Linked DNA regions of Homo sapiens: region 1 is linked to region 2. The links come from fine-mapping of genetic effects on gene expression. Tissue or cell type: whole blood. Region 2 holds a variant in brackets; the other region holds the start of a gene. All regions are shown on one strand. Distances are between the middles of the regions. Region 1 holds the start of RSBN1L (round spermatid basic protein 1 like). Region 2 overlaps PHTF2 (putative homeodomain transcription factor 2).

What was found.
Region 1: it holds the start of RSBN1L, and the variant in region 2 is fine-mapped to the expression of RSBN1L in whole blood (TOPMed, PIP 0.98).

What each region holds. Positions count from the first base shown.
Region 1 is chr7:77,692,352-77,701,390 of GRCh38, reverse strand. RSBN1L (round spermatid basic protein 1 like) reads right to left here and starts at 4,932. Exons shown (of 8, transcript NM_198467.3): 1 at 4,336-4,932. The coding sequence starts at 4,921. It overlaps APTR (Alu-mediated CDKN1A/p21 transcriptional regulator), which reads left to right and starts at 5,126. Exons shown (of 2, transcript NR_134254.1): 1 at 5,126-5,495. RefSeq lists silencers at 3,712-3,811, 4,102-4,421, 4,892-5,111 and enhancers at 4,632-4,861, 4,046-4,941, 4,942-5,837, 8,824-9,039.
Region 2 is chr7:77,928,031-77,937,069 of GRCh38, reverse strand. It overlaps PHTF2 (putative homeodomain transcription factor 2), which reads right to left. Exons shown (of 19, transcript NM_001395272.1): 11 at 7,743-7,961. Among named protein-coding and RNA genes, the nearest start is that of DDX3ILA1, 58 kb to the left of the region's middle. The variant A/G (reference allele first, on the strand shown) is at 3,960.

The DNA.
Region 1 (9,039 bases), 240 kb after region 2:
CAAAATGAAAATCCAAAATGAAGGAAGAAACCAAAAGGAAGGCATGAGATCCGGAAAAATAAAATTCAACAAAAGTTAAAGAAATTCCCAGAATGTCAACTAAGGAAAGTCCCAAGGTGACAGCTATGCAGCAGGCCTAAAGAGGAAACAACCCAGGCTAAAGCAGTAAGGACAGCTACAGAAGGGATGTCGTTTTTTTTTGTTGTTGTTGTTGTTGTTGTTTTTTTTTTTTTTTTTTTGAGCCAGAGTCTTGCTCTGTCGCCCAGGCTGGAGTACAGTGACGCCATCTCAGCTTACTGTAACCTCCGCCTCCTGGGTTCAAGCGATGCCTCAGCCTCCCAGGTAGCTGAGACTATAGGTGCGTGCCGCCACACCCGGCTAATTTTTTGTATTTTTAGTAGAGATGGGGTTTCACCGTGTTGCCCAGGCTAGTGTTGAACTCCTGAGCTCAGGCGATTCGCCAGCTTCAGCCTCCCGAAGTGCTGGGATTACAGGCGTGAGCCACCGCGCCCGGCCCCAGAAGGGATGTCTACAGGAACAAATGGAATGGGTAAGTTTATCTGACAGATTTGCCCATGTGGAAAATTGTACTGAGAAGCATTTTATGGAGCTACTGGAGGGTACAGAAAGACTCTGCCAGAGAAAACTAAGCAAATGAAAAAAATGAGACATGAAAAACAAAAGGTTACACAAGAAAATAAAATCATAGTAAATTATTCCCTCAGCAGAGACAAATATTTAGTCATATGATAAAAACTCTGAATATGAATTTAACCTAAAATTGTACAGTAACAATACTGGAGGAGAGTGTAGTTAGAAAAATCTTCAGACACCCATCCCTTTGACATCACTCACATTTATATACCTCAAATTATTTGATTCTAAGAAAAGCTGCTATTTTCATTAGAGTTAAATCCTGCAACTACACTTTCAAGGCAAAAATTCAGTGAAATGCTCTGGTTTTGTCTTGAAATACTTCACAGGGTCATTTTAAGGAAAAAAGTAAGTTAACAAATACAAAGCAAAAGTACTAACAAAAGTTAGAAGATCTATACAAATTTTGCTGGTTACTGGAGTCAGTGAAGGCACACTGACAGCTAATGAAATATTTGTTGTGGTTTGCCATAAAATAATTCTAAATTTTGGATACCCTTGGTATATGTCCACTTTTACTTTCCACACTTACCAATTCTACAATTTATTCAGTCTTACAGGAATATTGATTAACTCTCCAGTAAATTACCTCCGTAAGCACTAAAATCAGGTTATTTTCTGGTTTTAAAAATCTAAAATGTTGGCCAGGCACGGTGGCTCACGCCTGTAATCTCAGCACTTTGGGAGGCCAAGGCAGGCAGATCACAAGGTCAGGAGTTTGAGACCAGCCTGGCCAACATGGTGAAACCCCCTCTCTACTAAAAATACAAAAATTAGCCAGGCGTGTTGGCGAGTGCCTATAATTCCAGCCACTCGGGAGGCTGAGGCAGGAGAATTGCTTGAACCCGGGAGGCGGAGGTTGCAGCGAGCCGAGATCGCGCCACTGCACTCCAACCTGGCCAACAAGAGCGAGACTCTGTTTCCAAAAAAAAAAAAAAAATCTAAACTGTTTTGCACTTTTCCTTCTTATAAGAAATTTAACTTTTACTTGGTGAGTCAAGCTATCACGCAAGTCAGCTACAGTACTATGATTAGATGGCCTTAGAGATTGTGAGGCATCAGGCCCTGGTACTAAATGGGGCCATATTAGTATACTTTCATAATTCTCTTGTTCAGCATTCTTAACTTTCATATCTGTCAATGATCCTTCCTCTATCAGCATTCACCCATCTTTCAATTAGTTATAGGGTTAAAAAATTAATAACTATGCTTCAGACTCAAATAACATTTACTAAATACCCTGCTAGGCCCTTTCTTATACATGCTTTCATTTAACCCAAATACGTTCTGTTAGAATGGTCACCAATGTAAAAATAAAGCAGTTCTGACTTAGGACTTTTTAAAAGCCCTACTATTAATAAATACAGGAGCTTAATTGTTTAATCAAATTGGGGTGCAGGCTAGGTCTTTCGAGTGTGTGTGGTTCAGTTTTGTTTTGTTGAGGGAGAATCTCTTCCTTGTTTAGGTGTCTTTATAGCTAATGTCTGGTTCTGACTCAGACTGTTCAATCAGCCAGCTGTGGATAATTGAGGGGTTACTGAACCATGCACAGCCAACTTAGGGCAACACTAAAAAGAGGTATATACCTAAACAAACACTTGGTCACCCATTCACTAAGATTTTTACAAAAAGCACAGAGAAATGATCATTGTATTGCAAATCAGGACTTTCATATTTGCAATTATATCTATAATAAAGGCATATATGTATTCTTGCTATACCACTTGTTAATACCGCTATTTAAGAATCTTCTTAATTCGTTAAAACAGAACATCAATTCAGTTAAATCCAAACTTTAGAAAGATATAAGTATTCCCCAAGTTACGAGGGAAAAATTTTCACCATTAAATTTACCACCAAGACACTGGAAAGGAATCTTTTTCTCTGATAGTTTTTCCTCAACAAGATAGCATTTGTGTCTGAAAAAATGAAAATCTTACAGTAGTGTTAATATCTTGTCACTACTCCAAAAAACCCACATAGGTCATGGGAAAAGATCATTCCCACATCTTAATGTAAAACCTATCACTGTTTATATTCAGGATTAATAATATTAGTGTTAACCCTCAAAAGAAGAAGGATTCTAAATGTAATTGAAAAGACTATAAAAATTCCTCTTTAACAGCCATTTCACTTTAAGGACCATTTGTGTACTCCACATTTTAAGTTAGAATTGTTAAAGAATGCTTACTTATTTCTTCTCAAATATTCCATTACTCCAACTATGTAATACTCATATTCACTTCCTCTTTCAGAGAACTTACAGCAAATGTGCAGTTTACACACCACAAACACTAGTGATGATACCAAGCTGCATATGGACAAACTTCCAGGCACTTATCTCCTAAATTTTACATATAAATTGTTAAAACAAAATAGCTTTAAAATACTAATCACCTGGAATTCCTGACTAAAAGTACCAAAATCCCATCCTCAAAACCACTTTCCTAGAAACAACACTCCCAGAAGCTGAAAGATATTTACATTGCACCAGAGTCCCTGATGGCTATGCTTAGATGTTAAAGCTTTGCTACAGGCAAAAAATATCAAGGAAGAAGTGACACTATTGCTACATGCACATGCAGCATGTTTTAAGTTGTGAAAACAAACCATTATAATCCAAACAGAATTTTTCATGATCTGAGCTACTGTTAGATCAGCAATGCTGAAACTGCTTGACATTTCTTTTTCTAAAAAACAAAAAGAGTTATTTGACAACACTGTGTAGCAGTGCACATTTATAATAAAGATTATGCGCTTTAAGCTTGCGATCACATAAAGATTTGATTTTCAACTAGTCCGTATGTTGCACTATTGTCAGATCATTGTGTATCCGTAGCTGAAGTGGTGGAAACACCTGAAAAATTATACGACTAGCCTACATTTAAAAACAAAACTGACCCTGTCTGACAAGAACCCTTAAGAATTCGCCTTTTTCTAATGCTCAAACATTCTGCAGCCGCTTGATCTGGCGAAAAATCGTCAAAGCTCCTGGTTTTATCATTTGCTGCAGGGAAAAAAAGAATATGGCTGAAAATTCTTTCAGAAGGGTGGTATTTCAAACAGGACCACCCAAAACACTTAAGAATACGCAGCGGAGAGTAGGGTGCAGGGAGGGTACCTTACGAAACAGCGCACTTCGGGCCCTGCACGCTACCTCATTTCCCTAATAGGGATGAAAAGCTCAGGCCTCTGGTAGCTTCCAGCTGACGCCAGTGCTCTCTCCACACCCCTTTTTTGACAGGATTATCCGGGGTTGAACGCTGTGTCACAAATACGAATTCCCGCGACCACGTCTAAGTGGTCTAACAATCAATCAAGCATCTTTTACAAAACCAAACCCTTCCCCCATCCCGTTCCCTCCATCTCTCTCCCTAGCCAAACAAACCTAGGAGAGTCCTCAAGATGGATTTTCACAAATCCTGCAGCGCACTAACTGGGAGGAAGAAACGATACAGAAAATAAGAGTGTCGGCCATCCCCCTCTCTGCAACCGAAATTACAGGCTCCATTTCCTGTCCCCTTGGGAACTGCAAAATCCTCTGCTGAAAACCGGACGCCTCCCAGCCCCTCCAGGCCGGCGCACGCGGCCGCCGCGCTCCCCCTTCCCGGGCCCCGTGGGCGCCAGGGGGCGGCGGGGACCCACGGCGCCCTCCCCTCCCCCTCCCCGCACGGCACCCACCTCGGGGCAGCGGCTTCACCTCCCCGTTCTCCTCCCGGGAGGCCCCGCCGGCCTCTCGGGCCCCACCGAGACCGTGCCTCCTCCTCTCCTTCTCCCGCTTCTCCTTAGGTCTGCGCGACTTGGCGTTAGCCGAGGCAGCGGCGGCGGCGGCGGGCAGGAGGAGATGGTGAGGCTGAGCGTGCAGCAGCGTAGGAGGGACCAGCAGTTTGCGCGGCACCGGCTGAGACAAGGAAGCGGAGGCTGAGGAGGGAACGGCCGTGCCAGCGGAGAAAGAGAAACTGCTCCGAGAAGAGGACGGGGAGGGAGCAGCAGACAGAGGGGCAAAGCTCCAAGACGCGGGGCTGCCATAGCTCTGAGGCGAAGGTGCTGCCGGCGGCTGCAGCTGCCTGCTGTTCCCGCCGCTGCCCCCTTCTCCGTTCACTCTCCGCGGTGCCTTCTTCTCCTCAGTCCGGACCTTCTTGGCGGACAGAGAACCCGGAGGGTCCCGGGAGGAGAGTTGCAGCTTGCCAAACGGTTCTTTCTCCGAGACGGTGGCGGTGGGGGCCGCGGCAGCGACACAGTGCACGGGGCTCGGCGGTTCCGCCATTTTGCGCTCCTGTTGTATTTACTCTCCTCCGCTAGCCGGCGCGGGGCAGGGGGCGGGCCCTCCGCGAGGGGTAGGGAAGGGGCGGAGCGGCCAGGCCACCAGCCGGCATTGCTCCATTGGGCAAGCCACGCTGAGGGATCCACCTAAGAGCCAATCAAAGGCACAAACATCAGACGAAGGGGCGGGATCGCCACAGGGACCCTCTTCGGAGGTCAGAGCTCGGCGGGGTGCGGCTAGTGGCGGAGCGCGCTGCGAGGGGAGGGCTTTCCACTGTCGCTGGCGTGAACTCGCGTGCCCGGTGGGTATCAGGGAAGAACCCCCGCCCCGGACCCCCAGATCTGCCATGGCCGAGGTAGCGATCGTCTCTGCGGCCACGAAGACTGTTTTAACTTGTACCACTTTCCCTTCCATTTTTCCTGGGGTGCCTCTCACCCTGCATCTGCGCGTTCAGCAAGCTGGATTTCGGGAATGCTCAGTTCAGAAGAGAAAAAATTGCCGGGAATCAAGTCCTTCTTTTTGTTAGTCGGTAGTCGATTGATGGGAAGTGTTCAAAATCATTCGATGTGGTGACAAGGTACGTTATTATTGCTAGATCATGTGCTGTAATCCATTGAAGGAGATAACTTCCAGCAAATCTAGAACTTTAGTATTACTTACAAGCTTGAAGGTGAGAGTCTCCCTTTGGAGACTTTTGAACTGTTGTGACTAGACCCTTAAGATTTTTATTTTATTTATTTATTTATTTATTGGGACGGAGTTTTGCTCTGTTGTCGAGGCTGGAGTGCCGTGGCGCGATCTCGGCTCACCGCAACCTCCGCCTCCCAGATTCAAGCGATTCTCCTGCCTCAGCCTCCCCAGTAACAGGGACTACAGGCGTCCGGCACCATGCTTGGCTAATTTTTGTGTTTATTAGAGACGGGGTTTCACCATGTTGGCCAGGCTGGACTCGAACTCCTGATCTCAGGTGAGCGGCCCACCTCCGCTTCCCAAAGTGCTGGGATTACAGGCGTGAGCCACCATGTGCGGCCTTAAGATTTGAATTTTATAATAATTATTATAGCCGGGCGCGGTGGCTCACACCTGTAATCCCAGCACTTTGGGAGACCGGGGCGGGCGGATCACGAGGTCAGAAGTTCGAGACCAGCCTGACCAACATGGTGAAACCCCGTCTCTACTAAAAATGCAAAAATTAGCTGGGCATGGAAGCGCGCACCTGTAATCCCAGCTACTGGGGAGGCTGGGGCAGGAGAATCGCTTGAACCCAGGAGGCGGAGGTTGCAGTGAGCCGAGACTGCGCCACTGCACTCCAGCTTGGGCGACAGGGCAAGACTCCGTCTCAAAAAATAATAATAATAATAATAATATTATTATTATTATAACGTAGACTTGCCAGGAAAAATTCGTTGGCGATTATTTATGGATGTTTGAAAAGCAAGAATTGTTTTTTTAGGTTTCTGTATTTTAGCGTTTAGTAAGCACACTGCGTGTTCGATGTTTTGTAAGCATGTGCTTTGATTTTTGCTTCGAAAATAAGCAATTTGGGGAGATGGGTTTTAGCTTAAAAGATAAGGAATGTGGCCGGGCGCGGTGGCTCATACCTGTAATCCCAGCACTTTGGGAGGCCAAGGCGGGCAGATCACAATGTCAGGAGTTCGAGACCAGCCTGGCCAACATAGTGAAACCCTGCCTCTACTAAAAATACATAATTAGCTGGGCGTAGTGGCATGCGCCTGTAGTCCCAGCTACTCTGGAGGCTGAGGCAGAAGAATCCCTTGAATCTGTAAGGCAGAGGTTGCAGTAAGCTGAGTTCGTGCCATTGCACTCCACCCGGGGCGACAGTGCCTATTTACTCATTTTTTTAAGAATATTTTTAAGAATTTTTTTTTTTTCGGCCAAGAGTGGTGGGTGGCTCACGCATGTAATCCCAAGACTTTAGGAGGCGGTGATGGGTGGATCACCTGAGGTCAGGAGTTTGAAACCAGCCTGACTGACATGGTGCAACCCCGTCTCTACTAAAAATACAAAAAAAATTAGCCAGGCGTGGTGGTGCGTGCTTGTAGTCCCAGCTCCTCGGGAGGCTAAGACAAAAGACTCGCTTGACCCCTGGAGGTGGAGGTTGCAGTGAGCTGAGATCGTGCCACTGCACTCCAGCCTGGGTGACAGAGTAAGACTCCATCTCAAAAAAAAAAAAAAGAATGTTTTGGAGTCAAATTTAATATTGGTTTATGGACTTATTTTTATGTGCCTCAAATTTTTTAAAGTAATAACAGTATTTAATATGTAACATGAAAACTTTCTAATTGGAATTGACTGGCAGCAGATGTCTTCAAGAAAATTAGCATTGGTGGGAGAGTGGACTGAGTGGATTAGGCTGGAAATCATCTGCTAACGCACTAGTTTCGTGACCTTAGTCAGGCTGCTTCACTTGTTAGGACCTCCGTTTTCTTACCTGTTGAGTTAGCATATTTGATTACGTGATCACTAAGGTCCCTTCCACACTCAACTTATGCCATATTCAAGAAGCTTTTCAAAATCACACCGAAACCATTACAATTGAATTCATTTTTTAATTGTTGGCCCTCCTGATCTAGAAAAGTGTCTCTAACATACATTAATGTAGTGCCTGGAAACTTGCACCACTCATTCTCTAATCTCTAGCACACAGGTCTGGAAAATCGGACTTCTTAAGAGCCCAGTTAAACTACACCCTTGCCTGCATGAATTTGTTACTCCTTGCATTACATTATACTTTCATGCACTGTTATTAGGCCTGGCACTTAATTTGTAGAGCCTAAGCAAGAGTGTGGCTATAGAGGTCCACACACCATCTGTCTAAATATTTAAAAAATAAATCAAGATAACAAACTATTATATAAAATACATTCTATTCTACTACCTTGACAGATCCACTTTCATATGATCTGGAAGTCCATGTTTGAATTTAGAGTTCTTAGAGTCCCCACACTGACCCCATTCTCCTCCCATCCCCAAGTTCACCTGCCACACGGAAAGGCCATACATGCACCCAACATGTCCAGGTGTATGTCCACATCCCCCTACTCCGCAAATGGTGATGTACAATCGGCAGCTCACTCTGCCCTCAGATCTAGCCAGTCTAAAAGAGGAGGGCAGGCTCCAGGCAGACATGGCCCCTGACCTCATGGGCTCCTTGTTCTTTACAGCAAGAGGAGGGCCAAGTAAACAGAGGCCCCTTACCCAGATCTAAAGACAGGACTTGTCTGTTATTAAAACATGCGCAACTATCTCTTTTCTGTGCTGTGTAATTAGCCATTCCCTTTCAACTAGATTATTCTTGTCAACACTTAACTGGCAGAGGTTTTCTACCACTATCACCAATTTCTTTTAGCATAATCTCTTTATAATCTCATATAGGTTTTCCATTCTACAGCTAGAAAGCTCTTTTCAAAACCTTGGCCGGGTACAGTGGCTCATGCCTGTAATCCCAGCACTTTGGGAGGCCGAGGCAGGCAGATCACCTGAGGTCAGGAGTTTGAGACCAGCCTAGCCAACATGGTGAAACTTTGTCTCTACTAAAAATACAAAAATTAGCTGGGCATGGTGGCACGTCCTTGTAGTCCAGCTACTCGGGAGGCTGTGGTAGAGAATCGCTTGAATCTGGGAGACGGAGGTTGCAGCGAGCCAAGATCACGCCACTGCACTCCAGCCTGGGCGACAGAATGAGACTCTGTCTCAAAAAAAAAAAAAAAACGAAAACGAAAAAACCTGGATCTGACCATCTCTCTTGCCTTGCTTCAGACCTGAAGTCAATGGCTTTCATTGCTCTCGGGACAAAAAACAAAATCCTTAATGTGTCCTGTAAGACCTTTCATGAACTATCCCCTTCTTCTATTTCAAACTAACAGGTCTTTAATCTCCAGAACCCACCATGTTGTCTTTCAACATAGAAACATTGCATATGTGATTCTCTCTACTTGACGTGCTTTTTCCTTTGGCTGTTGCCTATGTGATGATTTGGATAATGAACATAAGGGAGGCAGATATCATGAATACCTTCTATATTTCTAACCAGCAAAACTTGGCAGTGGTACCATTCCCTGAGCCAAGAAACAGTGGAAGAGTGACAAGTTTCAGGTACT
Region 2 (9,039 bases):
AAATATTACAAAACTGAAGCACTCAGCCTCCTGAGTAGCTCGGACTACAGGCACCTGCCACCATGCCTGGCTAATTTTTTTATTTTTAGTAGAGACGGGGTTTCACCATGTTGGCCAGGCTGGTCTCTAACTCCTGACCTCAGGTGATCCACCGGCCTCTACCTCCCAAAGTGCTGGGATTACAGGTGTGAACCACTGCGCCCAGCCCCAAAACAGAACAGTTGAGTTAATGATGGCAACAAAATTAATGAAACACTAAACCTTTATATAATCAGACTTCAAGAGGAGAAGTAACACTAAAAGATTAAACCCAGATAGAGATCAGTTTGCTTGTTTATATTGCAGTATTTCTAGTGTATTTTTAAGGACTCATATACTTCCCACATTTTGTTTTTTGAGACGGAGTCTTGCTCTGTTACTCAGGCTGGAGTGCAATGGTGCGATCTCAGCTCACTGCAACCTCCGCCTCCCAGGTTCAAGTGATTCTCCTGCCTCAGCCTCCCAAGTAGCTGGGACTATAGGCGCCCACCACCACGCCCAGCTAATCTTTAAATTTTTGTAGAGACGGGGTTTCACCATGTTGACCAGGTTGGTCTCGAACTCCTGAACTTGTGATCTGCCCACCTAAGCCTCCCAAAGTGCTGGGATTACAGGCGTGAGCCACGGTGTCTGGCCACTTCCCACATTTTCTAAAAACAATAGTTTTGGCATTCGTAGCAACCTCAAATTTTATAAAATATTTCATTAAATATAACTTCTAACAATGAACAGAAGAATCTACTCTAGGTACATTTATTCTTTAGAGGACAAAAATGTGATTAAAATATGGTAAAAAAAATGTTTCTTGTAAACTTTTAACACTTTCCTCTAGGGGGAGTAAAGTTGCATTGATTAATTTCAACTAAAGTTGAATAATAATAATTCAATAATGTAAAAAAAAAGAGGTGGGAAATTTTTATCTTTTCTAGAGATGAAGGATTTTAATATACTTTAACTTTCATGGTATACATTTCACTACTTGAGGTCCTGAAGAGTGCTAAGATACTAGTTATTAACTACCAACTTAATTTCTCAAATGTTATTTCCTCATTTATCTCCAAACAAAATATTCTGTTTTGGGAAAGAAATAATCTGTACCAAAATATGTATCAAACTTTCACTAGAAATTTTACAATTGTTAAGCGTAAGGAAACCAAAAAGCCAGAAACAGGAAGTGCAAGAAGCTAAAAGGAAAGAAGTTTAAGCTTGAGAGCCAACAGATTTCAACCACTGATTTACAGACATTTTTAAACTCTCAGTCTGGAATAGTGAATTAAGGTCTTCCTAATTACATGAAGAAAGGAATATCAATACCAAGAAAGCCCATCTAGAGACAGAAATAGGAAATCAGGACATTCTCATTGTCCTCCCAAAAGCACTCCTTTTACATCTAGCTACCTTGCCAATTACTCTATCCAGCATCTGATATTACATTATTTCTAGAATGCCAAAAGGCAAAAGAGAAGACAGCAACTAGAAACTGGTGAATTTTAAAAGAGTTAATTACGCCGGGCGCGGTGGCTCACGCCTGTAATCCCAGCACTTTGGGAGGCTGAGGTGGGCGGATCACGAGGTCAGGAGATAGTAGCCATCCTGGCTAACACGGTGAAACCCCGTCTCTACTAAAAATACAAAAAGAAATCAGCCAGGCATGGTGGCTGGTGCCTGTAGTCCCAGGTACTGGGGAGGCTGAGGCAAGAGAATGGCGTGAACCCGGGAGGCAGAGCTTGAAGTGAGCCGAGATCGCGCCACTGCACTCCAGCCTGGGCGACAGAGTGGGACTCCGTCTGAAAAAAAAAAAAAAAAAAAAAAAAAAGGGTAAATTACATGTTCAATGTTGTGTGTAGAAACTTGAAAAAATAAATAAAAAAGACTGCTATATTCCTCTGTGTGTGTGTGTGGGGGGGGGGAATGTACACTGAAAAACAGTCTTGTTGAATCATGTCTGCAGTGTGGAGAACAGCATCACATGAAATTTTTTTTAAAAGGTTCAGGGAAAACATCAGAGCAAATAATTTCATTTTATAATTTTATCACATAGGTTACTCTAAATACATTTTCTTTTTTCTTTTTTTTTTTGAGACTGTGTTGGGCTCCACTGCCCAGGCTGGAGTGTGGTTCTTGGCTAACTGAAACCTTCGCCTCCCGGGTTCAAGCAATGCTCATGCCTCAGCCTCCTGAGCAGCTGGGATTACAGGTGCCTGCCACCGTGCCCACCACCATGCCCGACTAATTTTTGTATTTTTAATAGAGATGGAGTTTCACCATGTTGCCAGGCTGGTCTCGAACTCCTGACCTCAAGTAATCCACCCGCCTTGGCCTCCCAAGCTGGGATTAGAGGCGTGAGCCACCATGCCCGGCCGCTATATATGTTTTCAAACTAAAATTTAGAACTTAAAATTTTTTTTTACCTTTGAAGACAGCATCACAGATCCAAAAATTTAGAACTTCTAAAATGATTATACTTTATCCTCACTTAAAATCTCAACTGCTTTGCTCCTTATTCATTCAAAACTACCTGAAAACCTTATTGCTTAAATGGTGGCATGTTTTATTTCAAATAAATTCACCATGCCAACCACATACTCGTGTTTCCAACTGTGGGAATGCAGCCATTTAAAGCTTTACACTTACTAAAAACTGAATTTCAGCTGAATATAGCTTTATATTTTAGTATATATTCAGCTATAGAGGAGGGCTATAGGAGAAAAATTTTCTTCTGTGGAAATGTTTCAATTACTATTTACAAACAAAATAAAACAATGAAATAAAGATACACATTTGGGAATATTCTGATTAGAACATACTAATTCAAATGCTCAGTGTTTTTTCATGAGAAGGGATTTTTCCATCTGTATAGCAGACAGAAAAAGGTCTTCCAAACCTAACAGACTGGTTAAACAAGAAAAAAAACTAGTAGCTTTTTAGTAAAAGGGAGCTAATTTCCATTACTTAGCTACTAGTAAAACTAAAAGCATGAGCTTATTTTTTGAAACCTGAGAATTAAAAATCTGTTTAAGATCAAGTCTTTAATCTAAAAGCAAAACCAATATAAGCCTAGGATACCATAATTAGATATACAGAGTAGAGCATTAACAAATTTTATCTTACCAAAAAGGTAGCCGACTGGTGTGACAGACTTAGGAGCAATTTACTCTGCACAGACATCATAAAACAATTTTTTAAATCATTTAAGAAAGGCCTAATTGGCATGTTTTGAAAAAATTTAATTTTGTTTCAGGCATTCAATATTTATTAAATACCTACTGTGTACCTCACGCTGTGTGATACAACACTGAGCAAAAAAAAAAAAAAAAAACACATGGTCCCTGCTTTTATGCTGCTTATAGTTATCTCTGGGAAAATAGCTCACAGGCATTTCCCTCAATCTTAACTCCAGTTGTTAGTCTCAGTGACTTAGATGAATATGCAGATGACTCATTCAACACCCTATGCTTTCATGGATTGTTCACTTTTTCATTTCTTCAATCCCAAGGACGCTACTCCCACAGCCACACCCTAGACCTTGTCACCATACGGAACTGCTCTACTTCTGAAAGGAATCTACTACAACTTCCCATCTTACCTGGTCTCTCAAAGCTTCAATTCTGAAACACTTGTTCCCTTGAACACACCTATCCTTAAATTTATCAGTCCCTTCCTGATTTCATTTCCTTCTCAATCTAACAATTTAATGACTAGACTGCCACCAGATCCACCATTTCAATCATCCCCTCTCCTGTCCCTTGAAGAGCAACTATTTATTTATTTATTTTATTATTATTATTTTTTTGAGACGGAGTCTCGCTCTGTTGCCCAGGCTGGAGTGCAGTGGTGCCATCTCGGCTCACTGCAAGCTCTACCTCCTGGGTTCACGCCATTCTCCTGCCTCAGCCTCCTGAGTAACTGGGATTACAGGC[A/G]CCCGCCACCACGCCCGGCTAATTTTTTGTATTTTTAGTAGAGATGGGGTTTCACCGTGTTAGCCAGGATGATCTCGATCTCCTAACCTTGTGATCCACCCGCCTCGGCCTCCCAAAGTGCTGGGATTACAGGCGTGGCAACTATTTATTGAACACTTACTCTGTGTGACTTTGGGCACATTACTCAACTCTGAGCAATGTAAAATGAAAATAAACTACATTACCACAGGTTGTAAAGGTTAAATACATGAGATAATGCAACTAGATTACTTTGCACAGTGTGTGGCATAAGTAAATGCTTATTAAATGTCAGATATAGTAACAACTACATTCCAGAAAACATCACATAGCTGTGTAGAATAGGCAACTACAAATTCATGGTTTCAGATTCCAGCTGGACCCTCAACAATGTGGCAAGGCAGTATGATTGTTTTGATGTGTTCATTGGCTTGAACACACACACACACACACACACACACACACACACACTCTCTCTCTCTCTCTCTCTTTCTCTCTCTCTCTCTTCCTCTTTCTCTCTCTCCCTCTCTCTGTCCCCTTTCTCCATTCTCCACAAATGGTAACTTAAAGCCTTCACCACCATCCAAAAGCCTCCTCTTGTATCATCTCGCTTATTGCCAGTAGATCCCTTGGACTCTTGCACTTCACGGAAAAAAGATCATCAGGCAATAACTCTCTTACCATCTTGCTTGCTGCATGCACTCATCCTTATCCTCCTATCTCAGCAGAGGATGTTTTCCTCTTCCTGTCAAATGCTAAGCTTCCTGATTATGATTCCCCTCCAGAATCCTAAGAAATCATTCCACCAGTCAACATTTTCTTCCGTATCTCTTTGATTCTTCCCTACCTGTTTTCTCCTGTATATATCAATGTTTTCAAATATCTCATATATTAGGGAGTCAACACCAAAACACTCCAGCTCAATTTCCCTAATTACCACTTTGTTTTTTCTAAACATTCATAGCCATCCTTTTTATTTTTTATTTTATTTTTGAGACAGAGTCCGCTCTGTCGCTCAGGCTGGAGTGCAATAGCGCCATCTCAGCTCACTGCTAAGCCCTGCCTCCCAGGTTCAAGTGATTCTTATGCCTCAGCTTCCAGAGTAGCTGGGATTACAGGTGCCTGTCACCACGCCTGGCTAATTTTTGTATTTTCAGTAGAGACAGGGTTATTTAAAGTAAAGGCAGCTTGCCTTTTTCATTCAAAATTATATTCAAAAACTTATTCATGTTGATACATGCAGCCGAGTTCATTCAATTTCACTGCTGTATACTGTTTTATCATACAACATTATTTATTAATTCCACTATTATTGGCTATTATATTTTCAACTTTCACTATCATGCACAATGCAATGATAGTGCCTATCTTCTAAAGTTTCATTCTAAATTGGAATGAAAGGGTCCTAGAATATATAGAACTTCAACTTTACTATATAATGACAAACTGCTCTTCAAAGTAGCTGTACAAACAAACATCAGTATTAAAGAGTTCTCTCTTCACATTCTTGCCAACATTGAAATTTATCAGGTTTTAAATTTTGACAATTTGATCAATATTAAGTAGTATCTAATTGTTCTAATTTACATTTCCCTAACTAATAGCAAGGCTGACCATCTTCACTTATATTTTATTAGCCATCAGGGGACCTGTTCACATCCTTTTATTTTTCTATTGAGTCATTTGTCTTTTACTTATTCATCTGTAGGAGTTCTTTATGTCCTGTATGTAGTAACACTGTGATAGTTAATGTATTGGAAATATCTTCTCCCAGCCTGTGGCTCATCTTTTAACACGCCCAAAGTTTTAAATCTTAAGATATTCAAATTTATCTCTCCATTTTTGTTTGTGCTTTTTATATCTTGTTTTTAAAAATTCTTCTCTAACCTGAAGTAATAAAGATTTTTCTCCTGTATTTTCTTCTAAATGCTTTAAAGTTTCGCTTTTCACCTTTAGAAACTATTTGGAATAAATTTTCAAGTGTATAATCATTTGACTCACAACCATATAGTCCGTTCTTTTTCTACTGACTTGTAATGCCACTTATTGTCATGTATTAGTGATCCATTATAAACAAATGTCTATTTCTGAGTTTTCTATTCTGTTCCATCGGTATATATGTTTATATGTCTATACTATACTATCTTGAGTATTAAATTGAAAGTAAATTTTTATATCCAGTAGGGAAAGATCCCTGTTGTTCTTCAAAATTGTTTTTGCTATTCTTGATATTTTGCTCTTTAATATGGACTTTAAATCAGCCTAACTCCAACCAAAACCAGACAGAGGTAAAGAGACCAGAGCTCCCTTATTTCCACCGTGTAAGGATACAAGGATAAGATAGCTGTTGTAAACCAGGAAGAGAACCTTTACCAAGAACCAATCATGCTGGCACCCTGATCTTGGACTTCCAGGCCTCAGAACTGTGAGAAATAAATGTTTGTTGTTTAAGCCACCCAGCCTCTGGGATTGTTATAGCAGAAGGTTCTTTGATAGCTATGCATCACCCTTTTATCAGATTGAAAGTTCTCTTTTTTTTCTCGAGTTTTCTGACTTTACTTGGTTTGACAGGATTAGATAAGGAGTTGGATAAGAGAGAGAAGGTGAAGAAGAGGGGAATTTTAAATGACCACCAAGTTTCTGGACTAGTGAGTAGATGAATGGAGATGTCATTCACCAAAATTTTGAATGGAATAAGAAAAACAGATTTATGAGGGAGGACTGGTTAAATTTGAGGTATTGGTGGGACATTCAAATAAAGATATCCTATAAAATCGTGCTGTCCAATATAGTACCCTCCTCACATGTGGCTATTCAGCATTTGAAATGTGGCTAGTCCGACTGGGCAGGGTGGCTTATGCCTGTAATCCCAGCACTTTGGGAGGCTGAGGTGGGAGAATCACTTGAGGTCAGGAGTTCGAGACCAGCCTGGCCAACATGGTGAAAGCCTGTCTCTACTAATAACATAAAAATTAGCCGGGTGTGGTGGCGGGCGCCTGTAATCCCTACTACTCAGAAGGCTGAGGCAGGAGAATCGCTGGAACCTGGGAGGCGAAGGTTGCAGTGAGTCAAGATCGTGCCATTGTACTCCAGCCTGGGTGACAAGAGGGACAGACTCCATCTCAAAAAAAAAAAAAAAAAAAAATGTGGCTAGTCCAAAATGAGATGTGCTCTAAGTGTTTACACCAGATTTTGAAGATTTAGTATTAAAAATGTAAAATATTTCATTAATTTTTTCATATTAGTTATATGTTAAAGTGATATTATGAATATAATGGTCTAAATAAAACATATTTGAATTTCCCCTTTAAAAAATATTTAATGAGGCTACCAGAAAATTAAAAATTATACATCTGACTCTCATAATATTTCCATTGGATAGCATTACTATGGGCACTTGGAGCTACAAATTTGATATTCATGAGATGTAGATTTGTGAATATAATCTTATAGGTGGAGTTTAGACCAAGGTGTACATGCATCTGGCCACAAAGTATGTTCAGTAAGAAAGTACTATTGCACCTAACACACGATTTGACTTACGAAACTCCAGTTACCAATAACTTTTCAGGAACATACATAACCACAATATAAGTACTGAGATTCTATGTTTTGATGAAGCCAGACCACAGCTCACATAAAAAGAAAAAAAATTATAGAAATATAAGCTTGAATGTAAGCTTTTTCTTCACCTCTGTAACATTTGAACATAAATTCAAAGGAGCTTGACTCATAGCTCCACATAAGCCAAAACCATAAACCAACCTGATGAAAAGGGTCATCTCTATATTCTTTTTTCACACATGGATTAATCTGATGATTTTCCACATCTGTCTCACTGGTACAAGATGAATGGCATTCTGCACAATGTAACAAGTCTTCCCATAACACATCTTCTGTTTCAGATTCTGGCCTTGCACTCTCAGAATCCTGTCTGGAACTTGAACAGCGAGAGCTGCAACTAGTACCCGATTTAGGGGCGTCCTGAAATCAAGATATTCTTTGACATTAATACAATTTATGTACTCTTTCCAACTCAAAGGATACTATCAGAACCCATATATTGATACTTTTTGCTAAAACAACAAATACACCCTCAAAAGATAGTGAGACAGCAAAACATTACAAAATATATTAGCTTTTATTCAGTAACAAAATACCTTCACATCAAAATTTATTTGATTTCATATTTCAGCTCAGATATTACTTTGCATACAAAGGTTGTATCTATTTTCTCTTAAATTTTATATGAAGTTCACAACTCAGGTAGGCAGAGAGAGTAGTCTAAGTAGTCTAAGTTCATACGGTCTGCACGGTGAACATTAACTGACTTTAATTGATGTTATTAATGGCAATACCATTGGCCTCCCATATCCATGCATTCCACATCTGCAGATAGAAAATACAATATTCCTGAGATGCAGAACCCACAGTTTTGGAGAAATGGAGGGCGAGGGCTGACTTATGTGTCATCAGGTTCCACAGGGCTGACTGTGAGATTTGAGAATCCTTGGATTTTGGTATTTATAGAAGGGCCGGATATCTACCAATCTCACGTGGATACCCAGGAATGACTGTATTTTCTTATTCTAGTCTTTTTTTTTTTAAGCAAGAGTGGATTTATCTACTGTTTTTGTTTCACAAATGGAAGTGAAATCAACATAAAATTGATATTTAAACCAAGAAGGTAACTGCCAACTCATGTTCTTGAGATAATCTGTGGTATAAAAGTAAAAAATTAAAACAAGTTAAGTAATTTCTAATCAGTTTACTTTATCCTGGGAGTTTGCAATGTACAAAATAAAGATGAGTAAAATTTTGATTTAAATTAATTAAAAAACTTTTACTGAATAAATCATGGTCATAGTCATCCTTATGGCCAGGTATCTTCAATTTTTTTTTTTTTGGCTGTCCTCTGTGACTAGATTTGTCATGTACCTTTAAAATGCATTATATTTATCCTTTTGTCTTTCCTTTGCTATCACCGACTTCAGACTTTATCATTTATACCTTCATTGCTATAAGCACCTCCTAATTGATCTTTGCCTAAAAGGCCTTCCTC